Regions from separate parts of the Homo sapiens genome. Here region 1 is linked to region 2. Evidence: fine-mapped expression QTL. A gene starts in region 2. The other region holds a variant in brackets. All regions are shown on one strand. Distances are from middle to middle.

What was found.
Region 1: its variant is fine-mapped to the expression of P2RY12 in skeletal muscle (FUSION, PIP 0.95).

Annotation. Positions count from the first base shown.
Region 1 is chr3:151,608,253-151,623,774 of GRCh38, forward strand. All of the region lies in intron 1 of LINC02066 (long intergenic non-protein coding RNA 2066), which reads left to right. It overlaps LOC105374157 (a long non-coding RNA gene), which reads left to right and starts at 11,677. Exons shown (of 3, transcript XR_924581.3): 1 at 11,677-11,757; 2 at 15,044-15,182. It also overlaps a transcript of IGSF10 not described here. The variant ATGTGTGTG/A (reference allele first, on the strand shown) is at 11,178.
Region 2 is chr3:151,374,691-151,390,212 of GRCh38, forward strand. It overlaps P2RY12 (purinergic receptor P2Y12), which reads right to left and starts at 10,063. Exons shown (of 3, transcript NM_022788.5): 1 at 10,002-10,063. It overlaps MED12L (mediator complex subunit 12L), which reads left to right. Exons shown (of 45, transcript NM_001393769.1): 28 at 1,336-1,524; 29 at 2,110-2,184; 30 at 2,301-2,488; 31 at 3,322-3,483; 32 at 5,423-5,534; 33 at 7,966-8,055; 34 at 9,089-9,198; 35 at 9,393-9,528; 36 at 10,340-10,501; 37 at 13,120-13,482; 38 at 15,289-15,445. RefSeq lists an enhancer at 3,378-3,447.

The DNA of each region.
Region 1 (15,522 bases), 230 kb after region 2:
CTCTGTGTCTAAGGTAAGGCTTCTCTATGCTAAAATTCAGTAATGAAATAGTCTTAATCTCAATGTGTCAGCAAAGCGGTTTGCATGGAGCTGAGCATGGTTTTGCATGGAACTGAGTTTGCATAAAACTGAGATAATGTAGGACATCTTAAGGACTCACAAAAAAGGACTCAATTTTAGCCTTTGGACGTTCAGGTTTCATTGGAAGAGACCAATGACCTAAGAGCAAATGTTGTTGTCCATAGTTTATGCTTTTCTTCATTCTCATGATTCAGCTTCTCTCTGGTTTCTTCATATCTTTCCACCACTTACTCTCTTTCACTTTTGGTATCCCCTTTACTTAATAGATTCTCCATATTGTTTCTCGGATGCTTAACACTTCTTTGTTTGTTTGTCTATTGACCTAAAGGTCCTTCAGTCCTTCTTTTATTGACCTACTATATTTTGGACATTAGGGGCACAGCAGTGAATAAGGAGAATATTTCCCTTCTCTCATATAATTGACATTTTTGTCAAAGAAAAAGACAATATGAAAATGATAAGTAAATAAGGTGATTATAGAATATGATACACACTAAGGGACACTAAAAGGTGGATATAATGGAGAAAGAAAATGGTGAGTTTCTTTAGATCACTGATTCAAAATTTGGCTGCAATTACAACCACCTGTAGAGGGTTTTGTTTTGTTCTGATTTAATACTGATGCCAGAGTCCTAGTCTGAATTACTTCTCAGGGTTGGGAAGTAATCAAGTCAGCTGAAGTTTTTATTAGCTTCCTAGGACATTCTGATAAACAGTGAAGACTGAGAACGACTGCTTTAGAGGAAAACCTCTTGAAGAAGATATTTGAGCTGAGTTCTGAAGGTAAAATAAGCCAGCCATGTAATACATGGGGGAAAGGGGAGGAGATGTTTCCAGAGATAGGAAACAGCAATAGCAAAGGACCTGAGGTGGAAGAGAATTTGACATGCATGAGGAACAGGAAGGAGGTCAGCATATCTGGGGCACAATGAGTGAGGTTGGAGAATGGAGATGCAAAGAGGCAGGCAGAAAGTAGCTTATGCTAGAGTTGGAATTTTAGTTTATAAGGAATGAGAAATCATTGAAGAATTTTAATCAGGTAAGTTACCCGATCTTCTGTACTTTTAAAAAGAACACTCTGAGAAGCCGGATGGTTCCCTTTGTAAGTGATCTGACCTTTTTCTCTAGCTGCCTTTTGACTTAGCATTCCCATTACTCAGTATATACCCAAAGGAAAGCCAATTGTTCCACAAAAAAAAAACACATGCACTCATATGCTCAGCACAGCACTATTCACAATAGCAAAGAAATCAATCTAGATGCCTATCAACAGTGTACGGATAAAGAAAATGTGGTACATATACACCATTAAATACTGTGCGGCAATAAAGAGACTGAAATCATGTTCTTTGCAGCAACATGAATGCAGCTGGAGGCAATTACCCTAAGTGAATTAATGCAGAAACAGAAAACCAAATACCACATGTTCTCACTTATAAGTGGGAGCAAAACATTGGATATACATGTACACAAAGATGGAAACAGTAGATGCTGGGGACTGCTGGTGGGGAGAGAGAGAGGGAGCAGGAGCTGATAACTGTCTATTGGGTACTATGCTCATTACCTGGGTAATGGAATCAATCATATCCCAAAACTCAGCATCATGCAGTACACCCATGTAACAAATCTCTACATGTACCCCCTTGAATCTAAAATAAAAATTGAAATGACTTTAAAAAATCTTTTAAAATAAAAGAACACTCTGGCTGCTATAAGGAAAGTGGATTTTGACAGGGCAACAGTGGTGATGGAGAGACTGGGTAAGTAGGCTATGGTCTCAGTCCAATAGAGAGATGATGGTAGTTTGGATAGGATGGTGGCAGTTGGGTGGAAGGAGAGCATTGGTAAAGGAAATATTGTGAAAGAGGAACTGATAGGACTTGCTACATATCTGATATCTAACTTCCTAAGAAAGAGAATCAGAGTAGTGAATCTGTCATTCAAATATTGATAGAACATTTCCTATTCCCAATACAGAGCATGATGCCATCTTATAGGCCACCGGTTTTCCTTGTGTCTAGTCAATAAATGAGTACTCTAGGATCTGGAGCTCAAATGAGTCATGGATCAAGCTGTAGCTCACATGGGACAAAGCAAATTAATTGATACAAAATGAAAAACTTTATATGGAGGCAGTTTATAGGTGTGATAGCTAGTCAGACTTTCTTAGATTCTTTTTTAATGATCATTTTTGTAATAACAATTGTTTTATTAAATGACAGAACTCAGATGAAGGTGTGTGCAAATAAGTTTTAATTACATTCAGATAAAACATGCATATTTCTAAGGAGGCCAAGTGTCTTTGTCCATTTCCTGCTGATGCAATGAAATGCTACAGACTGGGTAATTTATAAATAGTAGAAATTTATTTGGCATATGGTTCTGGAGGCTGGGAAGTTCAAAAGCATGGCACCAGCATCTGCTGAGGGTCAGTCTATGGCAGAAGGCATTACATGGAGAGTGAGCATGTGAGACACAGAGAAAATGGGAGCAAACTTATCCTTGTATAGGACCCACTCCTGAGATAACTAATCTACTCTCTAGATAATGGCATTAATAATAATCACCTCATAAAGGTCCCACCACTTAATACCATCACAAGGACAATTAAACTTCAGCATGCATTTTAGAGGATACATTCAAACCATAGCACCAAGGTTTAGTTGACTGGGTATATGTTTGACAGGCCTTAGGCTGTCCAGCTAATCTATAACTTTGTAAAGTGCACATAGTAGGTTGGTTCAAAAGGAAGAAGAAAATATTAAATGATTGTTGTTGGATTGTTATAAATCAAGTTGGGAAGAAACAACTGAGAATACACATTTTCTAATTTAGCTTGTCATATGCAAAAATTCACATATGTTCAAAGAAACCTTACAAATGATAATATCCCACCTTATAAATGATATCCCTATAAAATAACACCTGGAAAACATATTTTAATGTTTTCACTGAAAACTCACCAAATGTTTATTTTCAGTTTCCAAATCTTAAAGTACTAATCTATGGCCATTTATTATTTGTACAATTTGAATGTGAAGGCCAGCTACTTTTGCCTGAGGCCACATGGGCAGTGCATACAGTTGTGAGTGTGCAGAGATTCAGTATCTTGATTCATTGACCTATGAAGTAAGAAATCCTTGATTTTCTTTCTGTAAGTAGAGGCAAAGGGGAGAAAGAGAAAACACGAGAGCCAGAACAAAAATAATGTCTTTCGGAATTTCTTTTTCCCCATGGATTTCTAAATTCTCTGAAATGGATATCTTCCATGTGTTCTTAAAAAAGGATTTTTGTTAGCCAGAGAAACTTTCCATCAGCTTTCTTGCTTGCCAGCATTATTAAGACCTCCTGACATGATGTGTGTTAGCCCAATAAAAACAAACTCTACTTCTAAAAGTTTAGCTGTATGTAGAAAAGCAGCTTAAATCATATATTTATTTTGCTGCTTGTATTTTAACCTGACTTCTTTCCTTCCGTTTTCAAGAATTATTAAGATTTATTACTTGGAAACTATACTAAGCACTGAACTAAAAAAGAAATATTAACAAGTTGACCAAGAACTATGTACGAATTTCCTTCTAGGTTGAGCCACTGACTCACCTTCAGTCTTAAGTCATTTTGCCAATAAATAGGAAAATCAATTACATGTGGAAAGTTGTAGAGCTCAGATAATTTGACCAGCAATAGAGAAGCCAACAAAATGGATAATAGGACTATTTCCTTTCTCTTTGGTCTTCCCCTTTCCCTGTCCCCAAATGAATGTTTCAAGTTTCTTTTGTGGCAGTATCCATCTTGCAGTTTCTTTTCTTTTGCTCTTGCATGTGGCATTGCACTTCGTGTCAAGTTCTCATAGCATTTCCTTCTTCTCCTTCCCAAACTTGCTGAAATCTCAGTACACCAAGAAAACTCTTGAAAATGAATTGAAAAACATTTCCTGTCTTATTCAAGCCCCTTGGATGTGGTTCACACAGAGTGTGAATAAGATGATTTCATAGTACAATCCTAGGCTGTTCTAATCATAAAGGACGTCTCATTGTGTGACACACACATACCACAGAACCAGTAATTTCAGCATCATGGAAAATACTTTTACAGGTGGTGATTAGCCTCCAAGTTTTCTTTAATAGCAAAAGGTCAGAATGGCCTGTATAATTGTTTCCCTTCAAAGAAGTCAGAGGGATAGAGCAATAAGAGTATAGAAGTAGAAAAGAAGATGCTCTCCACTCCCTAAAGAACCCATTCCCAGGTAATAGATATCTGCAGCCAACTTATAGCTGATAATTCAATTAAAAGAGAGTGATTTCCTTATATGATACGAACAAAGGTAAAACAATTAGCGATATGGGCATACAGACTGTAATAAGTTTATATTTAAATTTGGACTTTAAGCTATCAGATAAAGACCAAAAATTCTCAATGAGTGTTGAAGACCTGGCATCAAGACATAGAAATTTGTAGGCAAAGGACAGATACTTTTGAAAAGAAGACACACACTCTGCCAACAAGCATATGAAAAAAAGCTCAACACAACTGATCATTAGAGAAATGCAAATCAAAACAACAGTCAGATACTATCATCTGCTTTTATACTGTTGGTAGAAGTGTAAATTAGTTCAACTTTTGTGTAAAGCTGTGTGGCAATTCTTCAAATAGCTAAGTCTCAGGATACAAAATCAATGTACAAAAATCACAAGTATTCTTATACACCAATAACAGACAAACAGAGAGCCAAATCATGAGTGAACTCCCATTCATAATTGCTTCAAAGAGAATAAAATACCTAAGAATCCAACTTACAAGGGATGTGAAGGACCTCTTCAAGGAGAACTATAAACCACTGCTCAATGAACAAATGGAAGAACATTCCATGCTCATGGGTAGGAAGAATCAATATCGTGAAAATGGCCATACTGCCAAAGGTAATTTATAGATTCAATGCCATCCCCATCAAGCTACCAATGACTTTCTTCACAGAATTGGAAAAAACTACTTTAAAGTTCATATGGAACCAAAAAAAGAGCCCGCATCGCCAAGTCAATCCTAAGCCAAAAGAACAAAGCTGGAGGCATCACGCTACCTGACTTCAAACTATACTACAAGGCTACAGTAACCAAAACAGCATGGTACTGGTACCAAAACAGAGATATAGACCAATGGAACAGAACAGAGCCCTGAGAAATAATGACACATATCTACAACTATCTGATCTTTGACAAACCTGACAAAAACAAGCAATGGGGAAAGGATTCCCTATTTAATAAATGGTGCTGGGAAAACTGGCTAGCCATATGTAGAAAGCTGAAACTGGATCCCTTCCTTACACCTTATACAAAAATTAATTCAAGATGGATTAAAGACTTAAGTGTTAGACCTACAACCATAAAAACCCTAGAAGAAAACTTAGGCAATACCATTCAGGACATAGGCATGGGCAAGGACTTCATGTCTAAAACACCAAAAGCAATGGCAACAAAAGCCAAAATTGACAAATGGGATCTAATTAAACTAAAGAGCTTCTGCACAGCAAAAGAAACTACCATCAGAATGAACAGGCAACCTACAGAATGGGAGAAAATTTTTGCAACCTACTCATCTGACAAAGGGCTAATATCCAGAATCTACAATGAACTCAAACAAATTTACAAGAAAAAACAACCCCATCAAAAAGTGGGCAAAGGATATGAATAGACACTTCTCAAAAGAAGACATTTATGCAGGCAAAAAACACATGAAAAAATGCTCATCATCACTGGCCATCAGATAAATGCAAATCAAAACCACAATGAGATACCATCTCACACCAGTTAGAATGGCGATCACTAAAAAGTCAGGAAACAACAGGTGCTGGAGGGGATGTGGAGAAATAGGAACACTTTTACACTGTTGGTGGGACTGTAACCTAGTTCAATCACTGTGGAAGTCAGTGTGGCGATTCCTCAGGGATCTAGAACTAGAAATACCATTTGACCCAGCCATCCCATTACTGGGTATATACCCAAAGGACTATAAATCATGCTGCTATAAAGACACATGCACACGTATGTTTATAGCGGCACTATTCACACTAGCAAAGACTTGGAACCAACCTAAATGTCCAACAACGATAGACTGGATTAAGAAAATGTGGCACATATATACCATGGGATACTATGCAGCCATAAAATATGATGAGTTCATGTCCTTTGTAGGGACATGGATGAAACTGGAAACCATCATTCTCAGCAAACTATCGCAAGGACAAAAAACCAAACACCGCATGCTGTCACTCATAGGTGGGAATTGAACAATGAGAACACATGGACACAGGAAGGGGAACATCACACACCGGGGACTGTTGTGGGGTGGGGAGAGGGGGGAGGGATAGCATTAGGCGACATACCTAATGCTAAATGACAAGTTAATGGGTGCAGCACACCAACATGGCACATGTATATATATGTAACAAACCTGCACGTTGTGCACATGTACCCTAAAACTTAAAGTGTAATAATAATAAAATAAAAAAATAAGAAAAGGTAAAGTGAAGTATAGGAATTGGAAGTGAGGTAACAGAAACAGTAAAAAAAAAAAAAAAGAAGCCTGTAATGTAATAATTATGGTGATATCAATGAAAATTGAAACTTTTACTAAAAGCAATGACAGCTATTCTTGTAATGATAGATGACTTTGGAAAGCCTATGAACTTCTAAAATATGTTTAAAAGCATTTGCTAAGGTCAGAAAAATTTTAATGCCACATTTTTTGGTAAGTTTTGTTTACATATTTACATTTGAAAAAATATGCATGAAACCTCTATTTTGGGTCAGACAATGTTCTACCCTCTAATGTTACATTTGATTAAAATGCATATGTTAACTGAAAGCTACTTCATTTATAAGATTGAATGTCAAGGTTTTTTTGTGAGTTATAGCTATGAAAAGTAATTTACCCAAAATGATGGTGTGTTTTTTCACCTTTAATGTCTATATCACTATTTTTAATTTATAATTTTCTTAAACAATTTTTATATTTATTTCACCATATAAATACAGACTTAATTTTCATTTTAAATTTCTCTTATTACATATTAAAAGCTAGTACCTAAAAAGAACTACTTTTCTCCTATATTGTTCCATGTATGCTGTGTCTTAATTACTTTACTCTTCTTTTACTTAAAATAAATTAGAGAACTCTGAATATGTGAAGAAATTTGCAGTAATGGGAAATAAGACATTCAAATTATGCTGGGCATATGAAATAAGCTTAATGAGAACCTAACAGTGCGGAAGTAGGAAAAATTTTAAGTACGCTCTTTATGGATCAAATAAACTACAAAGGGAAGGAAATATGAAGCGCTGAAAGGAAACTATAAAAAGCAAGGGCAGATAAAAATTATGAGCTTTAAGGGAGTGATTAAATAGAGCTTTAAGGGAGTGATTAAAATAGCATACAAAGGTCGAGAAGAATCCTTTTTAGGATAAAGATAGAAAAATATTAACAGTAATTCTTAAAATGGCAAAATATTCAGTTAAGCATTTAACTATCAACTGTGACAACTTGGAGTTATGTTAATTTATAGGGATTCGTTTATTTATCCACTTACCAAATATTTATTTTGTTTTTGTTTGTTTGGTTGGTTTTGTTTTTTGAGGTTTTTTTTTTTTTTTTTGAGATTAAGTTTCACTCTTGTTGCCCAGGCTGGAGTGCAATGGCGTGATCTCGGCTCACCACAACCTCCGCCTCCTGGGTTCAAGTGATTCTCCTGCCTCAGCCTCCCAAGTAGCTGGGATTACAGGCATGCGCCACCACACCCAGCTAATTTTGTATTTTTAGTAGAGACAGGGTTTCTCCATGTTGGTCAGGCTGGTCTCGAACTCCCGACCTCAGGAAGTGATCCTCCCGCCTCAGCCTCCCAAAGGCCTGGGATTACAGGCATGAGCCACCGTGCCTGGCACTAAATATTTATTTTGTTATTACTCTTTTATTTTCTATTTTGTTTCATTCATCCAACATATATTTCAGTCTTCAAAAATAATGCCAATTAAGTGTAACTTAATGTATAGAATTAACTAAAATCTAACATATAAAAACATAGAATGGTGTTATTATATCCTTTTCTTTTTTATGGACATTCATTAAGTAAAAACATCTCTTAAAGGAGAGAGTGGTTTTGTATCTTGGAGAATTCTTTCATAGAAAACACACACTTCCAAAATAAATACTTAGGCCCCTTTAAAGGATATTTTAAACATAGAAAAGGCAGAATATCAATGCAAAAGACTAATATATTTGGGCACATAAAAGTTAAACAAAAACCTTTTCTACATTAAAATATTTAAATTCATTATTGACAAGCTGAGTAAAAATGCTTTCCACAAATAAGTTAACTGATTGATTAATATTCTAATTTATAAAGAGCATCTATCCATTCATGCATCTATGTATCATCTATAGAAACCTCTACGAAATGCGTCTTATTCTGTTTTCTGTTGCTATAACTGAATATCTGAGACTGGGTAAGTTATAAAGAAAAAAAATATTTTTTACAATTCTGGAGACTGGGAAGTTCAAGGTTGAGGGGTGGCATCTGGTAAGGGCCTTTTTACAGGTAAGGACCCTCTGTAGAGTTTCAGGGTGGCACAGGACATCACATAGTGAGAAGGCAAGGCTGCCTGAAGCCTTTAGGGCCCAATGCCTGCACTGGTGAGCCCAGGATGCTGGAAATGGAGTCAAAGGAGATTATTCTCCAGCTGTAAGATTTAAAGTAGTTTTCCCTGTTGGGGTTTAGACTTACTTGGGACTTGATACTACTTTCTTCTTCTCCTCTTCTTCTTCTCCCCCTCCCCCTCCCCTCTCTTCCTCCTCCTCTGCCTCCTCCTCCTTCTTTCCTCCTCCTCCTCCTCTTCTTCCCCCTCTTCTTCTTCTTCCTCCTCCTCTTCTTCTCCTTCTCTTCTTCTTCTTCTTCTTCTTCTTCTTCTTCTTCTTCTTCTTCTTCTTCTTCTTCTTCCCCTCCTCCTCCTCCCCCTCCTCCTCCTCCTCCTCCTCCTTCTCCTTCTTCTCCCTTTTCTTCTCTTTCTTCATCTTCTTTTTTTTTTGTTGGGGGGATGGCTATTTCTCCCTGAAGGAATGGGAATGCTTGTTCTATTCCTGTCTCACAATTGTATTTTTGGAAGTAGATAACTTGTTTAATTTCAAAGGTTCATAACCGAAGGAGAATTTACTTCAAGATGAATTGTCACTTGAGTATCACCCATATCTGATGCAGATGAAACTCTGGACTTTGAACTTTTGAGTTGGTGCTGAAGTGAATTAAGACTTTGGGGATGTGAGGGTAGAATGAATCTACTTGTATGGGAGAAGAATATGAGTTTTGGGGGGCCAGGAGCAAAGTGTTATAGTGTGAATATTTGTCTCCTTTGAAACTTATGTTGAAACTTAATCCCCAGTGTAACAGTATTAAGAGGTGGGCCTTTTAAAAGTGATTGGGTCATGAGGGTTCTGCCCTCATGAATGGATAAATAGGTTAATGAATTAATAGGTTATCATGGGAGAGGGTTAGTTATCACAAGAGTGATTATGTTATAAAAGCCAGATTAGCATGCTCTAGCCCCCTCATCATGAAGCATCCTGCATCGAATAAATGGTCAAGAACAAGTATAAACAATTCAGAAAATAAATAGACATGTCTGTTATAGACTGAATGTTCATGTTCCCTCACATTCAAAGATTTAAACCTAATCCCCAGTGTGATGAGGAGGTGGGGCCTTTGGGAGTTAATTAGGTTAACTAGGTAATGAAACCCTTATTAATGGGATCAGTGACCTTGTAAGAAGAGACACAAGAGAGATGATCTCTCTCTCTCACTGTGGGAGGATACAGCAAGATGTTGGCCATCAGCAAACCAGGAAGAGAGTCGTCACCAGTAACTGAAGCGCTGGCACCTTGCTCTTGGACATCTGTCTCCAGAATGTTAGGAAATACATTTCTATTGTTTTAACCACCCAGTCTATGTTATATTTGTTACAGCCACCCAAACTGATTAAGATGCTAAAATGTTTTAAAATTTCTTTGAAACAACTTTCCCATGAAACTATTTAGTAATGGACATAAAGAAGTTTTAAAATGTCTATACTGTTTGCCGGGCGCGGTGGCTCACGCCTGTAATCCCAACACTTTGGGAGGCCGAGGCGGGTGGATCATGAGGTCAGGAGATCAAGACCATCCTGGCTAACACAGTGAAACCCCGTCTCTACTAAAAATACAAAAAATTAGCCGGGCGTGGTGGTGGGTGCCTGTAGTCCCAGCTACTCAGGAGGCTGAGGCAGGAGAATGGCGTGAACCCAGGAGGCGGAGCTTACAGTGAATCGAGATCACACCACTGCACTCCAGCCCGGGCAACAGAGTGAGACTCCATCTCAAAAAAAAATAAAAAATAAAAAATAAATAAATAAAAAATTAAAAAATTAAAAATAAAAATAAAATAAATAAAAAATAAAAATAAAAATGTTTATACTGTTTTACTATGTATGCCAGGAGGCAAGTACAAGAGCAGGCTTTTTTTCATATATTTTGTAAATAAATAAACAGAGATGTGAAGTTTTCCGAACTTTCAGCTATCACTGAAAGTCTCATACAAAGAAATACAAATATTTATGTACAAAGACCCTATCACGGTGTTTTCAATAGTAAGAAACTATAAATAATCTAAATCTCTAATGAAAATTAATAAATAGAATAGTTACATAAAATGAAGTAAATATGTAAATAAAATATAATGTAAATACTAAAAATAAAGATTTTAAATTTTTTATAGAAAATACCAAACATACAAAAGTATGGAGAATAAACATATAAAGATCTCACATGTAGTCATCATTCAGCTTGAACAGATATCAACTAAACACTAGCTTATTTTTATTATTCGCTTATCCATTGGCCTCCCCCTGCTTCCACCTTGATTATTTTGAAGGAAATCTCAAGCATCGTATTACTTCACCATAAATATGAATGTAAAGTTTTTGAAGTATTTATGATAAAAGCAGAACATTTTTTATAATATAACAAGAGAAAAAGCAAATTATAAAATGGCATATGAAATAGTATTTCAATTACTTTTA[ATGTGTGTG/A]TGTGTGTGTGTGTGTGTGTGTGTGTGTGTGTGTGTATGTAGTGGAAAAACAAATTTGTGGTAATAGACCAAAATTTTAAGATGGATTTATCAGACAGTTGAGAATTTATATTTGTTTGTATTTTTTCCAGTTTTTAATAATGAATATGCATTTTATGATTAACCCCAAATATTACTATAAAAATAAGTGGGTATGTAAATTTGATATGGTTTAAATGTATCCTGGAAAAGCTTATTTGTTAGAGGCTTGATCCCCACTGCGGCAGGGTTGAGAGGTGGAATATTTGGGAGGTGATTGGGTTATTGGGACTCTGCCCTCATGAATTTATTCATCCATTCATGGATTACTATATTAATGGGTTGATAGGTTAATGGGTTAATAGGTTAATGGGTTATAACAGGAGTGGGTGAGTTATGAGAGTGAGTCTGTTGTATAGTCAGTTTGGCTGTCTCTCTAAGTTCCCTCACCATGGGATGCATTGTGCCATCTCAGGACTCTCCAGAGAGTCGCCACTGGCAGAAGATTCTCCAGAGACAGTCATGTGACATTGGAACTCTCAGCCTCCAGAACTGTAAGAAATAAATTTCTTTTCTTTATAAATTATCCAATCTCTGGCATTCAGTTATAGCAGCAGCAAACAAGCTAAGACAAAATTATACTTTAATAAAACTGTTAAAAATAAAATAAGTGGTTATCTTTTAGGTAATGCCATTCAATGAAGTTATAAATATGAGGAAATATTGTTAAAAGAGGAAGTGAGTTAAAAAATGTATAACTTTAGCTGTCATTTAAAAAGTGAATAAAAAATACTTTGTGTTTTTATAAATTAGCTCATGCTTCCTCCTTTTGGGGGATAACAGAATCTAAGGTAAATAACACAAAATCAGCTTCCCCATTATAGATAAACTGTTCTTCAAAACTGGGGAATATATATATAAATTCATTTTAAGGCTACTATTGGCCCTTAATGCCATCAAAGACCACTAGATAAACATATTGATCAAGTAAAGCTCAGTTAATTAGACTTACTACACTAAAGGAGAACATCAACATGTTTGAGATTGTCAATAAATTCTCTAAAGAAGGAAGTTACAGGAAGAAAAATATACAGGGCATTGGGTGGTTTTAAGGCAGATTTTGCAAGATGGAGCTGTTTGGGATTGGTCAGGGTTTGGAGCATAATAACTTTGGTTTGGTGGGCATGGCAAGGAAAGGGTCCAGAAATACGCTATTAGTCTTAAACACTAAGCTATTTTTGTTGTTTCATAGTTTTATCTTCTAGAGCATGTATTTACTGCAGCAAGTAGCTAAGTGACTTTTGCCTAGCTCCAGTTTTGTGTAGCACAGAAACAGGAAAATATCTTTGGTCCTTGAACTTTCTATCCCAGGAGCAGTAAAGTAAATTGGGTTCATTTCTTATTTTAAGAAGTTCAAAACGAATCCAAGGACAACACAATTGTGCTCCTCTAGTTTTTTTGTTCCATAAAACATTATAGTCTATCTCCTTTTAATTTTGTTTTAAAAATTTTATTAATAAAGACAGGGTATTTTTATGTTGCCCAAGCTGGTCTTGAACTCCTGGCCTCAAGTGATGCTCCCACCTTAGCCTCCTAAAGTGCTGAGATTACAGGTATAAGCCACCATGCCCAGACTCTATTTCCTTTTTTAATAGTCAAACTCCCATCATTTTATTCACTTAATCAATTGATCTCTTATGTTTGCAGCATTGTGCCAGGTGACAGGTACAAAAAGTTGAATGAGCATGATCTTGGATAAGACAAGCATGCAAAGAAATACGCGCAAGAATTTGTAAGATGCTGTTGAAATATTATGCAGAGGGTACATAAAGCACAAGGAGGAAATAGTGAATTCTATTAGGATATGGGGTGGTTGGACAAGATTTTATACAGAAGCTAACCCTTGATCTGAGTTTCAAAGAATAAGGAGAAAGGGAAGGAGAGAACAGAATGGAATTGTAAATTAAAAAAAAACAAGTGTGAACGTTTGGGAAACTGCTAGCTAATCAGAACTACAATTTAAAAAATCTATAAGTATTACTTAGGAATATTTCACTCTTGCTTATGTTATGTTTTCTTTTCAGAATGTAGGTCTTATTTCTCTAATTAAACCGAAAGGATCTTGTGTATATAAAATGTCTTTTTATATACCTCATGTCACTTAGATCTGTGTCTACAGAATGTGGAAAAAATACTTTGATTGGTAAATGATAACTGAGAAGAGTAGGAGAAAAAATATTGTGATCTGGACTACTTATTTTAACCAGTTTAACAAATGACTGTTATTTATGAAAGATTTTCACTGGACAGAATATACTTAGGTGATTCCCACAGGAGTTCAATCAAGTATTTTCTCGTCAACTCTACAATTTATAATTGTTTCCAACATTCAGGGTCAGATTATTAATAACATTATTATTAATAACCAAACTCATAACAAGAGTACTTGCCTGATATTGATGCTCAGTAATTTTGTGTAAAAGAAATGGATGCGTATGCAAATCACATTCATATTACCAAGGGTGAAGAGAAGTCAGCTAGGCATTTTGGGGAAAGCTTTATTTTTTACATTAATAAAACAGAACTCTGTGAGCTTTCCTCTCCTTCTTTCCAGTTTGTGATTCTGGTTTGTGATTTATAATGATAAATCTTATCCAAGAGCAAGGTAGGCTTTCCTTTTGAGCAAGTATGTTTCTGTCTTTCAGAAGCATTCTAAAACATTTCTTCACTTTCTTGCTAATTATTCTGTAGTTATACTACCTTTGCCTAGAAATACTACATATGATCTCTTATATAATGTTTGAAAAATGGTTATTGCTTTTATTGAAGCATGTTTATGTTTATACCAGATCTCTTATAGTTTGTAGTGGTTTTGACTTTGAGTCTCTTTTACTTGAGTGTCTTGTTTTTTCAATCTCTACAATCCTATCATTTGAAAATAATGTTAATTTTGCTTCTTTTTCTGCAAGTTCGGTAACATACTTTTCTTTCTTTCTCTTATCCTTCCCCCACCCCTCCTCCTTCCCATCTTTCTTCTTCTCCTCCTTTCTCCTTCACTGCCTTTCTCCCCTTCTGTTTTTGTCTTAGAGTGTTAAAGTTAATTAGAAGCTGTTTATCATCTGTATCACCTGTATTCTTAAGCTTGATGCTAGATCTTTTAGTTATAAATGTATTTATAAATAACCAGAAAATGTCCATCTTTTGCTATTTTATGAATGATTTTAATCCATAATGATTATTAACTTTTACCAAATGCTGTTTCAGCAACTACAGCAGTTATGTATCAATATGGGTTCAGGCCTTATGCTGGTCTCTCCATGCTCTAAGGAAGAGAAACAACTCTAGTTTTAACTCTGTGTGAATGAGTAGATCTATTTCAAATTGGGGGTAGGGGGATATTTAGAAATAGCATTGCTAGTCATAGGTTAGAAATTTACTTCTGACACATTTTATTTATTTGGATAATATCCTTTACTATGCTTTTTGAATAGAAGGCTTAATTCAATTTAATTTCCTTTGTGGGATGTGGGGATGTTACTGTAAGATATCTGACTTGGAAGAGTAGTAATAGAATCATCGTATCCAACAGATATAGGCACTTTAGCATTGGTTTCTTCTATAACACAAAGGAGTTAGACAAAACAATCCCCAAAGCTCCTTTAGTCCTAACATTCTGTGATGCTCCCGTGATAATTTAATTCAATTACCTCCTTTCACAGAGAAGGAAACTGAGTCCCAGAGAATAAACATTGGTCAAGACTATACATGGTACTTAACTGGCAGCATAAACAAACTGGAAGGCACAATGCTAAATTCACAGCTCGTTTCGTTGTTTCTTAGAGTGTGTTTCAGAGCCAGCCACTTAACTGAAGACAGGAATTCCAAAATATTTATCTACCAAAGAGTTGGCTCAACTTTTCACCATAGCATGACTGAGTGAACATATTTGAGTTATCAGTTCTCCTATTTCATGACACAGGTATGCTACAATTTACAATTTTAATTTTTTTATTTAGGAAATTATAGATAAATAAGTAAATGTAGATCTTACTATTATTTCAAAATGTTCACATAAAAATCTGTGGAACTTGATTACTCTATTGCCAAATTAATAGACAACTAAATCTTAAATTAATTCCTAAGTTTACTATTCATTTCAATGGCGCATATAATATGTTCTTTTTATATCTGTAGACTAGATAACTTGTTTTCATAAAATCAAACCATAGGAAAGTCAAGATTTCCTTTTCCCATCTTCTCTTTATGGCACAGTCAAGGAAGCATATCTATCTTTGATATATTTGCAAACATTTTGTGTT
Region 2 (15,522 bases):
TCCCATCCCTATGAGTGTATTCTTTATGTGAAATAGAACTAGGTTCATTTGGTTTTGCATTATTTAAATTCCTTTCTTGTCCCCAGCTCTGGCTATAGAATAGCTTACTTTCAAAAGTGAAACTATACAAAAAAGTATACTCAGAGATGTGTCTCCCTCCCATATCCCTCTTACCAGATGATCCAGTTTTATTATTTTTTGGTTTATTCTCCCTCCCATATATTTGTTTTAAAAGTTCTCTTATAAAAAAAAAGTGACATACCTTATATATTATTTTGTACTTTGCTATAGGTGTCATACCGACTGGGTCATGTTTTTGTATTTTTACAGGCATGTTATAACTATGGTAAAAGATAGCTACATAGTCATATAAGTATTGAGAGGCAATTGTGTGTTGGTTCCCAACTGTGAGTGCATATTGGAATCAGCTGGGGCATTTAAAACAATTTGGATGCCTAAAAAATTACTGATATTTGGGTGCCACCACCTGAGTTTGACTTAATTAGTCTGATGTGGGCCCTGGGCATGGAATTTTATAAAGATCCCAGGTAATTTTAGTGGGCAACCAGCATTGAGCCACTGGTATGGTGGTTAAAAAACAGACTTCACCCGAAATAGATCTGGGTTCAAATTGGGCTCTGTTACTGTTGATGATTTCTTACTTTATTTAGTATAATAATTTGCCTTTGAAAAAAATGGTAAAGAAAAGGCAATAGGAGTTTAAATTGGTAGAAACTCTTCAGAGGGTCATTAACCCCATGCATCTATAGCCCCCCACTCACACTGGACCCAGCAATTGCACTTCTATGAAATTACCCTAAGAAAATTATTGTATAAAAAAGAGATGTGCACTACTACTCATTTATAATGATAACATTATTCATAATAGTATCAAAAAGGAAGATCGTTTTCTAAATATTTGTTATACTATGTTGTATCTAGTCAGTGAGATAGTACAATGTATTCCATAAAAATTATGAAGAACGTATATCTGATAGAATCATTATATAGCAAGTTAGAAAAAACTGACACAAAATAGTGCCTAGAGCAAGACCTTACTTTCCAGTTAAAAACATACTAATATTCTCTTTATTGTCTTTTCTTTTTTCCCATTAAAAAATGTTTTTAAGCAAGTTCTACTTTGTATTTTTTAGAAGCCAAAATGCTAAAAATTTTGTTTTTTAAAATTTTTCTACCTACTTTTTAATGTAATTTTTTAAATTGGAAAATTCCTATCAGTTTTCTATTCAATTATGCACTGTGGATTTAGTACATATTGCATATATATATACCGAAAGCCAGTGCCTGTCAATCTAATTGCCATATTATTTTTAGGAATGGGTAGGAGAGCATTGCTTAAAAGAACCTGAAAGATTATGTACAGACAAAGAACTTATATTGGACCCTGTGCTTTCAAATATGCAAGCACAGAAATTACTGCAGCTTATCTGTTATCCTCATGGCATTAAAGAATGTACCGAGGGGGACAATCTGCAAAGACAGCACATTAAGCGTATTCTTCAGGTCAGTCGTATACAGATTGTGTTTCTGTCATTTGATAAATTCTTCGTAATAATAAAAAGAGTTACTTCCTCTCTTTTTTTGTCCTTGCTAATTTGTGATTTCAATTCTGATTTTTATTCCCACACATTTTCTGTGGAATTGACATACTTTATTTTTGGGTGGATGTACATGCTGCAAATTGTATATGATCATCAAACAAATATTGATATTTTAAATCAGTATTGTATTTACATGAGAAATATGCTTCAGAGAGGGGCTATGTTAAATATATTATTAAAGAAATATTGAAATCATTTTGGATTGGGATTGGTTAAATAGATTTTGAAAGGAGAAATGCTTATTTAGTTTCAGTGCATAGCTGAGTCAGGCACAGTATTAACTAATTAATAATTAATGTTTCTGTTTATTGGTTTGTATCGCTACTGAATATATATGCAGCAAGATTGGGAACCTTTTGACTCATATAAATTATTTCATTGTGTATGATTATTCTGCTCTTTCTTGAGAGAAGGAGTACTGTAAGAAATTACTGTATTTTAACACATTTGATACCCATAATGTTTTAATTCTTTCCATTTTTCCCAGAATCTTGAGCAGTGGACACTGAGGCAATCCTGGTTAGAACTCCAGCTAATGATCAAACAGTGCTTGAAGGACCCTGTGAGTTTATATTGAAAGCTTATCTCTGTATGAAATTTTATAAAAAGCAAAAACACGTTGATGTTTGAGGATAAAGGAATACACATATGTGCCAGTATTCTTATATCTAACTCTAGGGCTCTGGTTCTGTGGCCGAAATGAACAACTTACTGGACAATATTGCAAAGGCAACAATAGAGGTATTCCAGCAGTCTGCAGACCTAAATAATTCTTCTAATTCTGGCATGAGCCTCTTCAACCCAAACAGTATTGGAAGTGCTGATACAAGTAGCACGAGACAGAATGGAATAAAGACATTCCTAAGGTATTTTTGTCTGTTGTTTTATTGAACTGTCATGAATTTTTCACAAGTAACGGTAAATTTTGTGTAGCACAGTGATTTTTCTTTAAGTCATAGGAATGTGAAGAACATAGTTACTTGTAAGCAGGGATTATTATTAATAAGTTAATGAGTAAAGCTGGGGTGAATGATAGCTTCGGAATATTTGATTGAGTAGGCTTAAACACCTTGAAACTGCAGGTGAACTCAGGTTTGGTTCATGCTTTCAGTGTCCCTTAGTCTACTGTGTTACGTAGTATTCATTATATGGGAAACGCTTTTTCCACCATTTTTATTAATTAATTATTTTGCACAAATATATCCTGGTAATTTTTGTGCAGAATTAGAACCAGTAGGCATATAAAGTCTTAAAGTAATTATTTAATCATGAAAGGCTGATTTGTATTTCATCATTTTGGTATAAAGTATAACTAGCGAATTTTAAACCTTAAAAATTAGCTATTAGTATGCTTACATATAATATTTCATATTGTAACTGTGACAGAAAAGTATATTGTTTGTTGGACAAAGTGATTGTTTTTAATTAGAGAGAGGGGGTCATCGGAAAACATTAAAGTCAGTTTAGTTACAATATCCTTCCAGAACTGCATGTTTTATTGCTTTCTGTAGGCTTAGGTGGAAAGCTCATGCAAATGTCTAGTGTTCGGAAAAAGGAAAGATAATACAGAAATAAAAGGGAAATTTTAGAACAGTCTGTGTGTCTCATACATCAAAGTTTCGCTTTGGAGTTTCTGTTATAACTGTGAGAGCAGGGGAAAGGATGCTTTCTCCGGTGTAACACCTGTTTCTGATTTTAGTTCCTCCGAACGCAGGGGTGTATGGTTGGTGGCCCCCCTCATCGCCAGGTTGCCAACTTCTGTGCAAGGAAGAGTGCTGAAAGCCGCTGGGGAAGAGCTGGAGAAGGGACAGCACTTGGGTTCTTCTTCCAAAAAGGAAAGGGACAGACAGAAACAGAAAAGGTGTGGCTGGAAGATGGGCGTCTGTGTGAGAGTTTAAAGAATAATTGAGAAAGTCTCACTTCCTGTAAACCTGTGTGGTCACTGTACCCACAGTCCACTGAAATTTAGTTTTTAAATGGAACTGGGAATATTCTATTAGGCAAGGCTGTCTTATTCCTAAAAAATTTCAGGTTATAATCCTTAATACATTAGTTCTCAATTCTGCCTTTATATCCAAATCACTGCTGAACTGTTAAAAACAGTGATTTCCGAGACCCGCTTTAGACCAACTGAATCAGATCTGGATAGCTACCTGATCCCTGTATTTTATTTTTAATTATTTCTATTTTTTTATTATTTAGATATTTATGTTTAAAATAAATATAATGTATAATTCTGGCATGTTGGTGTCTGAACTAGTTGCTCATATTTTTAACATTTAGGGCTCCTGTTCTAGACTAGACATTAAGACTCCTCGGCCACCACAACTAATGTTTTCTTAATTTATTTTATGCCCAAGAAAAGGTTTCAAGTAATTATATTTGAAAACCGTGTTACTGAGAAAGAAAGAAACCTCACCCTAATGTGAAAATGCCAAGAAACCTAGGAGTAAAGGAAAAAAATTGATAATTTCTTCCATTAAAAAAATATTTTAAGCACATAGATTTCTTGTCCACTAATGAATAATACTATAGTAGCCACCATTTATTGACTGCTTACAGAATGGCAACTCCTCTCTAAAACTCATTATGTACATGAGCTTTTAAAATTCTTATAGCAATCATGTGGTAGGTACTCTCATTATCTTCTTTATATCATGTTGAAACAGACACTTAAAGGTTACATGAGTTGCTCCAGGACACACAGTGAAGGACATAAAGCCTGGGTTTAAATCCAGGAGGTCTGGCTTCTGAGCTTGTGCTCTTAACTACAGTACATTTTGGTAGAGACCCAGCATTGTATGTACTGTATTTGTTTTACATCTGGTTGTTTTACCATGTTGGCCAGGATTAATTAACCAACAAGGAAGCATAATTCTAATTTTCAAATCATATTTGCTGATAGGTGAGTGTATGTGCATTGCCTAACTTCCCATAGGCAGGACAGATGGTATTGAAGAGACTTGAAAGATCGCTCTTCCCACATCAGGGGCTCTTTATTCTGCCCATGGAGAATAATGCTGATTGAAATATTTTGGCCTAGGTCTCATTTTAAGAAATTTGTCTTTCCAACATGGCGCTTTGTTTGTCAATATGATTTGTTGATTATTCTCTAATTGAAGACATTTTGTTAAAATGCCAATTTAAAACAGAATTTTTAACCAAATGCCTTGACACCTCTTTACCAGTGGATGCTGCGGGCTATGTTGGAGCCTGTGGGCTGTGTTGGAGCTGCACACTAGGGGTCGCCAGCAAGTACACTGTTTTTGGAGTCCTCAGCCCTGGCTGATGAATTAGCTCTACTAACACCCTGCTTTTTGGTCTTGGGAAATGTGCTGAAAAACAAAATCAAACCCCAAAACAAGCTCAACAGACATATATATAGGCCTGTTTTCCCAGACTCTAAAACAAGAGTTTTATATGAGAACTTTAAAAATTTTTAATTTTATCCTGTGTATAAATTGATATTCTTTCTGATGTACATTTTTAAATTCTGCATATTGATGTAGAAGATGAATTCACTGTCTTCTACCCTCACTGCCCGGCATGCTCACATGCAGTATGGTTTGATGCTAGTTTGAGAATGGCTTCGAGGGCAATTAGAGCATACGAAGTGATTTAGAAGCATTACAGTGGCTTTTAATTTTATAAGTAGAGGTATGATTTAAATTTTCAAGCAGTCTTTGGCTATTTACCACCTCTCTTATTTATCTAATAGTGAGGCAAAGAAATGAATGTTGCCAGAGGAAGTAATGCATTATTTCTAACTAGATCTGTTGTTATTATTACTTCCTTTGTAGTATGTCTCTTTTGAGTCAACAACCCTTCCTCTCACTGGTACTTACCTGCCTTAAGGGACAAGATGAACAAAGGGAAGGCCTCCTAACATCTCTCCAGAATCAAGTTAACCAGGTAAAGTATAGTATAATATTAAGACAGGCAAATATCTTTCTAACGGCATTCATTTATTTGCCTTTCAAATACTGAGATTAAATTAATAAGGGCCAGGTGTGGTGGCTCATGCCTGTAATCCCAGCACTTTGGGAGGCGGAGGCTGGTGGATCACCTGAGGCCAGGAGTTCGAGACCAGCCTGGCCAACATGGTGAAACCCCGTCTGTACTAAAAATACAAAAATTAGCCGGGCATGATGGTGTGCGCCTATGATCCCAGCTACTCGGGAGGCCAAGGCAGGAGAATTGCTTGAACCTGGGAGGCAGAGGCTGCAGTGAGCTGAGATCGCGCCATTGCACACCAGCCTGGGAAACAATAGTGAAACTCTGTCTCAAAAAAAAAAAAAAAAAACAACTAGTAAGGTTACAAAATGTTTTGAGTAGACGCTGAGAAACAATCCATGCCTTATTCTTCTACCTGGCATTGTAGACACCACAAGATTAACAACTTTATATTAATGAGATATATACAATAAATGTGTACTGCCTATAAAAGTAAAATTTTATATATTGCATATAACTTTGAACTATCTGCCCGTCTCCTAACTCTGCCTCATAGGAGAGGACCTGGAGCAATCTATGCTGCAGTAGGCATGGCAGTGAGTCCAGCTCCTCAAGCTTGGATGCCACATTATCAGGCACGCTTTCAGCTTGAAATCTGTAGGTTCAGAAACTCAGTTGTATTGATGCCAACCAAGTACACAAGAAATAAATCAGAAGGCATGTTGGTTTATTTAGAAATAATTTGGACATTGCCTTTTCACCAAACACAGTTCTCCTGGTCACTGTTTGAGGCTCTTGCATCTATGTACTATAAGGAAACTGAGCATTCACAACAGAAATTGGAGAGCATGGAATTAAGCAAAGTGGATAGATTGGTCTTATGAGGTGTTTTATCCTGATACACAGCCTAATTGACCCCTTCTTGTGGCACTGTGTTTCTATGACACCATGTCTTTCCCTCGAATGGTACTAGATGGACATGGACAAGGACACTTAATCTTATTTGATCCTCTTGTCATTTCTCACCTTTTGGGTAGGAGAGATCTAGATATAGCAATCATAGTGAACCTTTTTAAATGGAAGTCACATATTACCTCAGTATACCTAGTATAAAAAATTCGGGCTGATAAGGCCAGACATGATTTGACACTGGCTCTCTCTCCTACCTTGTCTCCTACCAGTCATGGCCCTCTTTCCTCCATGGTTGTTGCACTGGCCATGTTACTGTTCTTGAACTTGCTGAGCAAATTCTCATTTCAGTGCCTGTGCATCTTTTCTTCCCTTTAGGTGGAAAGATTCCCTTCCAGAGATTAGCATGGCCTGCTCCCTTCATTCAGTTCTCTGTTAAGATGTTACCTCCTTCGGGAGGCCTTTGATCACCTCTAAAAATAGGACCACAGCCATTCTGTATGCCATTGCCATGCCTCAAACCACTTGTTACACTTAGTTTTATTTGTCCCACTACTATTATTTGAGCTCCATGAGAGCTTGTTGTTTAGTTAACTACCTTGCCCCCTTAAGCCAGCCTTAGGGAGGGGTTCATTTCTTCTGATGAGATTTGGGAAGTGCTTTCCTCTCACCTTGCAGGGTACTTACAGGTCATCTGTTGGGATGGAGTACTTCTGCATGTGACTCATTTGAACTCTTTTAAGATGACTCTCATTAATGACCATATTTCAGAGCATGATAGGGTTTTTGTTAGTGGTTTTTTGTTTTTGTTTTGAATTGCACTTTTTTTTTGCTCATCTCATCTGATTTTAGGGTGTTGCCCACTTGTGGCTCCCTTTCCTAAGCAAATTTTTCCTTTTCCAGCATTAGTGTGAGTCAGTGAGGAAGTGAAGAAGCAGCCCACTTTATAAACTGATAAAGCCACTTGGCTGATGTCTGCAATGCCATATTTTTCAAAGTACCGTGCGTTCTCTTTATCAAGGAAGACACATACATAAGATAGCAGACCTTCTCTTCTATAAAACATCAAAATAATACATTTGCTAGGGTTCAGCAAGTCCCTAGAAATATAACAGGACTGAGGCAAAATGTAATTCTCTCTCTCCAGTGTTTTTCTTCGTAAGATCAATGAGGTAATGTATTTTAAAAGTTTTTATTAATGCTTAATTTGATGGCCCTCTCAAGCATTTTCCCAGACTTAATCATAGGCTAGCTATATAATTATATAAGATTTTCTTCCTCCACCTAGAACGGCAAATGCACAAATAAATAGCCAGATTTCTTTCTGCATGGAGGAAGAAGAAAGCTAAAATTTTATTTAGCTTTGTTTGTTAATTTGTTAAAGATAAGAAGTGGTTTTTTGCTATCAGTATAAAGCTCAATTTATCTTTAAATGAGAGAAAAATTAAACTTTAATGGGGAGTTTTTTTCCGGATCTTAGATTTTAAGTAACTGGAGAGAAGAACGATACCAAGATGACATAAAAGCGCGGCAGATGATGCACGAAGCATTGCAACTCCGCCTAAATTTGGTAAGTGACATTTCTAGTATTTTCCCTCCATTAAACATATTTACATGTGAAAATACCTCCAGCTTTCCACTTCTCCTAAGTGCAAAGTCTGCATTACAAGGTGAGGCCTTCCACTCTTTGCTCTCTGTAATTACTTCCCTGTTTCTAAAGCCTTCTGTTTCCCTTGCTGCTTTCCTTCCTGTCTGGTCAGACATCTAGACAGTGCTAGGTATTTTAAGCATAGATTTGCCTTCTCTACCTCTACCCCAGTGAATCTCTCCTTCTCTTCAGTTTGTGCTAAGAATAAATCTGAGAAGACTGTTATAAGTGTTAGCTTCTACTATACTTACTTAAAACCATTTAAAAAGTCTTTTAACTCAAAGTTTTGTCCAACTTTCCATCAAATTGATTATAAAGACAAATCCCACAGAGAAGTTTTATAGAAATTTAAAATGTCTCACATATTGTGCATTCCTTGAGTTTTCTTTTCCCATCAGGCAGGCCCAAGTGCAGGCCCCTCTGGAGGATGGCCTGCCTGATACTTTTGCAGTTGTTTCTAACCTTGTCCCAACACGTGAACTGGTAGGTGTGCGGGCCAAGCCTCCTGCCCACCACTGCTGTGATAGTGGATGTTTCCATATGGTATTATGATAGCAGGCTTAGATTCAATAGTAATTGTACAGCAAACACAAAGATGCAGATAATTGGATTACATGACTTTGACATTATTCAGGTTTAATTCAACTATAATTGCATCATAAAACTGGACATCATAAAAGATTTGGAACAAAAGAAAGCTAAGTTTATTGGTGCCCACATTCAGATACTCACGTCCCTTCTTCATTTTAGTTAATGTTTGAATGACTGAACTGTGCTGAAAGAACTAAAAATAGTGATAAACATGTAGGTAAAAGAGAAAAGATAAGGTAATCTATAAACTAGAGCATCCCTTGTTTTTTTAAATAAAAAACAATCAAAATTTGATAACATAAAGCAATGGGGTGTTCTTTCTGTTTTACAGAATGCAAATATCTTACTGTATTTTGTCTGCTAGGTAGGAGGAATGTTTGACACGGTGCAGAGGAGCACCCAGTGGACTACAGACTGGGCCCTGCTACTCCTTCAGATCATTACTTCAGGAACTGTTGACATGCACACTAACAAGTATGTTTTTATCACTTCACATTGATTTTGCTACATGTATGCATGGTATAAGCTTTGATATACTGATGGCGATTTCTGCCACATCTTATTTACTTGGATGCTATTAAAAATTCTGTGCCTTGAATAAAAATACTCAGTTAAATAAGTGTATTTCAGTTTCACTTTAAGATGAAAATAATTATTTTCTTTCTTAGTGAATTATTCACAACAGTTCTTGACATGCTGGGTGTTTTAATCAATGGAACGTTAGCCTCTGACCTATCAAATGCATCCCCTGGGGGATCTGAAGAGAACAAGCGTGCATACATGAATTTAGTAAAGAAACTGAAAGTAAGTTTGAGATCAGCCTGTATTATGAGCTCAAGTTGTTTATGGATTTATTATCTAGTGCATTTTAATTTATTACTCATTAAATGTTATTAATTGTATTCAACTTAATTTAATGTGATTATTTGCTATTTGTTTCACCTAACCTTATTAGTACCCAGAAGTTACATGCACATAACCTTGATTATTTTTTATTGAAAACAATTACATTATAAAACATGTTTAATTTTTTAAAGAACTTTAGAAATCCACTGTTAAATATATAACCAGAATACTAACATTAGATAGATTTAGGATAACTCTATGCTTGGACTGGCACGTGTAATTGAAAAAATAGCCATCTGCATTGAAATTTATAAATCGATTCATTTGACCGACCACTAACAGACTCCTTTAAAAAAAAATTGTAAGAAAACAGTGCAAAAAAGAAACCAAATAAATCTGATGCATTACCAATCAAATAAATCAATGGTTACCTTGTAATCTGACCCTGGACATGAGAAAGTGTTCTGTTCTGCAGCTCCTGTCTTCTGATTGTGATCACTACCCTGGATTTTTGTCATTTCAGCACTATGATGTTTGTTGTGTAACAACAGTGCCTTTGTATGTGTTCTATTTTCTACTTAAATAGAAGAAATGAAACACTCATTGCTCTATTTGGAACTGCCTTGTAGAACATGTTCAGGGTTAAAGAACATGCGCTAAGCTATAAAAAGGGAAATGTTTCATAGGGGAACTTCCTTCTGGTTAACTTTTGCCTTCATTGTAATTTCTGTCCCACTTCTCACTCTCTCTCTCTCTCTTTTTTCTTTAGAAAGAGCTAGGAGACAAGCGATCAGAAAGTATTGACAAAGTTCGACAGTTACTACCTTTGCCGAAACAGACATGTGATGTCATCACTTGTGAACCTATGGGTTCCTTGATTGACACAAAAGGAAACAAAATTGCTGGATTTGACTCTATAGATAAAAAACAGGCAAGAGTGAATGTTTTTTCTTATATATAAATTTATTTACAAAAGATGAAATACTTTTTTTTGTCTTACCATAGGATATATAAAATATATTAATTTTGCTGTTGATGTTTTTAAGGCATATGCTTGTCTTCTAAGTGTACTTAGTCATTGGCATTATCATATAAAGAGGTCATATCTTTGAAGATCTACGTTTTATATGTTTAAAGGACTTAAAATGTTTCCCTGAATTTAAGTAAATTTTTGGAAACCTACCAAGAGAAAACTAAGTAAAAGCTTAGTGTAAAAAAAAAATTGCATAAATAAGTTCTGATTATACTTCAGATTTAGAAGCAGAATATATTTATCAATGAAAAATTTCTTGTAAGCTGAGCATGGTGGCACATGTCTTTAGTTCCAGCTACTTGGGAGGCTGAGGCAGGAGGATTGCTTGAAGCCAGGAGTTTAAGGCTGCAATGTGCTAGGCTCATGCCTGTGAATAGCCACTACACCCTAGCCTGGGCAACAAAGTGAGACCCTGTCTCTGGGGGGGGAAAAAAAAAAAAAAACCTTCCTGTAGTAAGCTATTTCAAATAAAAATTATTTTAATTGTTAGGATATTCTCTATTCCTATCAAGCAGTATTTAATGGACATTTGTTTTATATAAGATATTAAAGATGGTTCTCTAAAATATGAGAAAATTGGTCAGTTACTCTTTTAATGAACAGTAAGCAACCACCGACATTCCACAATCACCAAGATGAAAGACAGAGTTCCTACCCTCAAGGGGGAAGTAGACAGACAATTACAGTGTAATGAGATTTGTGTGACATGGTACAGAGAGAGTATTAGGGGATAGAATAGAGGGTCCCCAGGAAAATTGACACGAGTCATTTTGAAGGATTAAGAGTTAGCTGGGAGGTAGGGAAAATTGTGGTACAAATAAAGGGAGAGTTTATATGAAGACATGAAAGAATCAGATTTACCAGGGAATTTAGAGTAGCCTGAGAATCTAATACCAGTTTGTGTAAAGAAAAAAAGCTAAAGTCATGGTCAAGTTTGAGTTTGCAGTGTCAGCGGACTTCCTGGTAGTAAGACATCTGGAATCCATTTGGATGTGTGGTTTTTACACCAAGGAAAAAGTTCTCATCTCAAGACAAATATTAGGAAACAGTCAATTTACAGGTGGCAATTGAACCTTGGTTTTATTTTGTTTTACTTTGTTTATTTATATTTTTTGAGATGGAATCTCGCTCTGTCGCCCAGGCTGGAGTGCAGTAGTGCGATCTTTGCTCACTGCAACCTCTGTCTCTCGGGTTCAAACGATTCTCCTGTCTCAGCCTCCTGAGTACCTGGGATTACAGACATGCACCACCAGGCCCAGCTAATTTTTTTTTGTTTTTGTCTTTGTTTTTTTTTTTTTTTCAAGACAGAGTCTTGCTCTGTCACCCAGGCTGGAGTGCAGTGGCGTGATCTCGGCTCACTGCAACCTCCACCTCCCGGGTTCAAGCAATTCTCTGCCTCAGCCTCCTGAGTAGCTGAGATTACAGGTGCCTGCCATCATGCCTGGCTAATTTTTGTATTTTTAGTGGAGACGGAGTTTCACCATCTTGGCCAGGCTGGTCTTGAACTCCTGACCTCGTGATCCACCTGCCTCAGCCTCCCAAATTGCTGAGATTACAGGTGTGAGCCACCACACCTAGCCTTTTTTTGTATTCTTAGTAGAGACGGGGTTTCACCATGTTGGCCAGGCTGGTCTCAAAGTCCTTACCTCAGGTGATCCCACCCGCCTCAGCCTCACCAAGTGTTGGGATTACAGACACGAGCCACTGTGCCTGGCCTGAACCTTAGTTTTAGATGAAGCTACTCATAAAAGAATGCATATAGATAACAACAGTAACACTTACATCTTAGGGAATGACTGAGTAGTTATTTGGGGGCCATTTAAGGAAAAATATTTTTAAATTGACATTTTAAGGCAAGTGCCAAGAGATGTCACCAATTAATGTTAAGAATAAAAAGAGGGTAACCGTTTTTTTTTTTCTAGAGTCAGTAAATATAAGCTTGAGTTGAAAGACTTTACTTATTCCTGCTGCTACAATTTAATTCTCTAATAATAATATTATATTCAGAGTATGGCTTATTAAGTACAGGGCCCACATATTGAACCAAGTTCATGCAGATTTGGATTGAAGTTAATACTAACCCAATTACAGGTTGACTATAACTTGACTCTTAAATTTGATATTATCTTCAAAATTATAAATAGATTACAGAGATTTAGAACTGGTTATAATTTAGTAAGATTAACTTTGCAGTGTTAGAATTTTTAGCAACAAATTTTTAGAATTTTTTTAGCAAAAAGAGGAAATACACATTAACAATAAAATATGCTAGACTGCCTCTGTTGCCTAAACAGAGCATCATGTGGTTAAAGAACTGTAGAACCGGGCTTACAAAGGTCTGAATTCTAGCCACTGCTCTCCGGTGATGTAGCTGTGTAACCCTCTCTGCTGTATTCTCGGGTTCTCTAGGGCTCATGCCAGCCAAAGTGTTCTCTGACTCCATGTCCCATACAAGCCTGGCCTATGAATAAGGAAAAGATCTGAGTGTGCTATCTTAGAGCGCTATTTTCCCACAGGGTCTCCAGGTCTCTACGAAGCAGAAGGTGTCCCCGTGGGACTTGTTTGAGGGTCAGAAGAACCCAGCTCCTTTGTCCTGGGCCTGGTTTGGGACAGTCCGAGTGGACCGAAGAGTGATCAAGTACGAGGAGCAGCATCACCTCCTGCTGTATCACACACACCCCATGCCCAAGCCCCGCAGTTACTACCTCCAGCCACTGCCCCTGCCTCCTGAGGAGGAAGAGGAAGAGCCCACATCTCCAGTTTCTCAGGAACCAGAAAGGAAGTCCGCTGAGCTGTCAGATCAGGGAAAAACCACAACAGATGAAGAAAAGAAAACAAAAGGAAGGAAGCGCAAGACGAAATCTAGCTCAAGAGTTGATGTAAGTGGGGAAAGGAAGGAGAACCTTGGCTCATTAGCATTTAGTATGAGATTTACTCGTGCCCAAATCATATCCCTCGAAACATTACCAAGAGCAGGATAAGTTTTGTTATGACAGTTCTCCTAACAGGTTTCTGCATTAACTGAATGGCACACAATGACTTGTCACAGACAAAAGATTAAAGCTTTTGATTTTCCGTCCTCCACTTTTAATAATTTTATTTTAATTGTAGGCTTCCATTGTAATATTTAATTAATATTTCAGTGCCTCCTAATTTCCTCGGGTTTGAAACTTGAAATTTTTAGAACTATACAATCCCATTCTCTCACATATTTTTAATATGTCTAAAATATTTATTGTATTTTAAGTGGTTGATATCTTCAGTAAATTAACATAAAAAGCTCTATTTGGTTTTTCTTTGATAAAACTTGGAGTTAGCATAGCCAATAGGATGTTCCTGAGATTTTATGTTTTACTATTCCATCTTACCCTCATATATTTTCCTTCTTTACCATGTTTTCAGACTTTATAAAAGATGAAAATAAGCCTAATTTAAAATAGTTTTACTTCTTGTTTCTCTATTAGTGTTCCCCACGTATAATAATCTTTTCATTACAACAGAAATCTATTTGATGGTGATTTAGAAATAATTTTATAAACCTTGAGAAGTAATGCATAAAATGTTTTTCTATTTAAATTAAATTAAAACCTGGAAAATATTTGATAGAGGATTTGAGACATTTTTAATGAAATTCCACAGCATTCTTGCTGCACAGTGGAAGAAATATTCACCATTTCATTCAGATATTCATGATTGGTTATTGTTTACCTATGTGAGAACTAAAATACATCTTTTCCTAGCTGATAGCTTGGTGATTAATACTATTTTAGAAATGACCACCACCACTTTAGGATGCCACTTGAGCATCAGTGCCCCCTTCTCATTCAGTCTTCCTACCAGTATTCCTTTGTCTTGAAGGGAAGTTTAAAATGGTCCAGACTGACACTCCCTCAAATTTGGGGTTTCCAGCCTGTCAGTCCACGTGGATGGGCTTTTGTTCTTTTCTGATGAAAAAGCCCTGAAACCAATCCTGCTCCCCAGGTCAGTCTGGTCATGTCCCCTCTTCCTCTATTCTTCCTGAAGCTCCCTCTTTTCAATGAGATATGCTCTTCAGTAAAATTGCAGGGAAATGAGATTTTGTTTCTCTTCCATCCTCTAGGGCTAGACTAGATGAGGGAAGGTAGGGAAATTGAGACCTTCAGGTGTGATCCTTACAGGCTTTGCAGCTACTATAAGGAAGAGGAAGCATGGGGGATGAGGGGAGTGTCTACTTCTTTAGAACGATGTCTGGAAAATTGCAAGTGAAATACCATCTTGGCCAAAGAGTGGTTCTGAAGCACTGTAGGGCTCTCTGGCGTAATTCTCCAGACCCAAGATATTGGAAAGGCCTTCTAAGATGAAATGATCATGAGTCTTAGCAACTGAAGGTGCTTTTTCAGTGATGAGTGTCGTTCAGTATTGGTATTCCTGACACACTTGTAGTCTTTTGAAATAGAATTCAGAAGAGATCCTTTTCCATCTCTGCCCACTGCAAGCCAAGCACTGTTTAAGTCAAGGAAAAGTTTACCTCAAATGAATATTTCCAGGGGATTTATTAGCACTCTTCCTTCCATCTTCTCCTTTATAAAAAACAGCTTTGTACATTGGGATAGGAGGTACCTCAGATAGCTTACTGAAGTTATTTGCATTAATTAGCTGTGTGATATGTGGAGTTACGTAACTTTTTAAAAAACTTTATGTTGAAGGAATATCCACAGAGCAACATATACCGAGTGCCTCCTAATTACTCGCCTATCTCCTCCCAAATGATGCACCATCCACAGTCCACCTTGTGGGGTTACAACCTCGTGGGCCAGCCCCAGCAGCCCGGCTTTTTCCTTCAGAACCAATCTCTTACTCCAGGTATGTGATGAGAAAGCACAGATCACTCAGAGATGAGAAACAGCTTGTGGTTCTCTTTGCTTTTAACCTGAAACCTC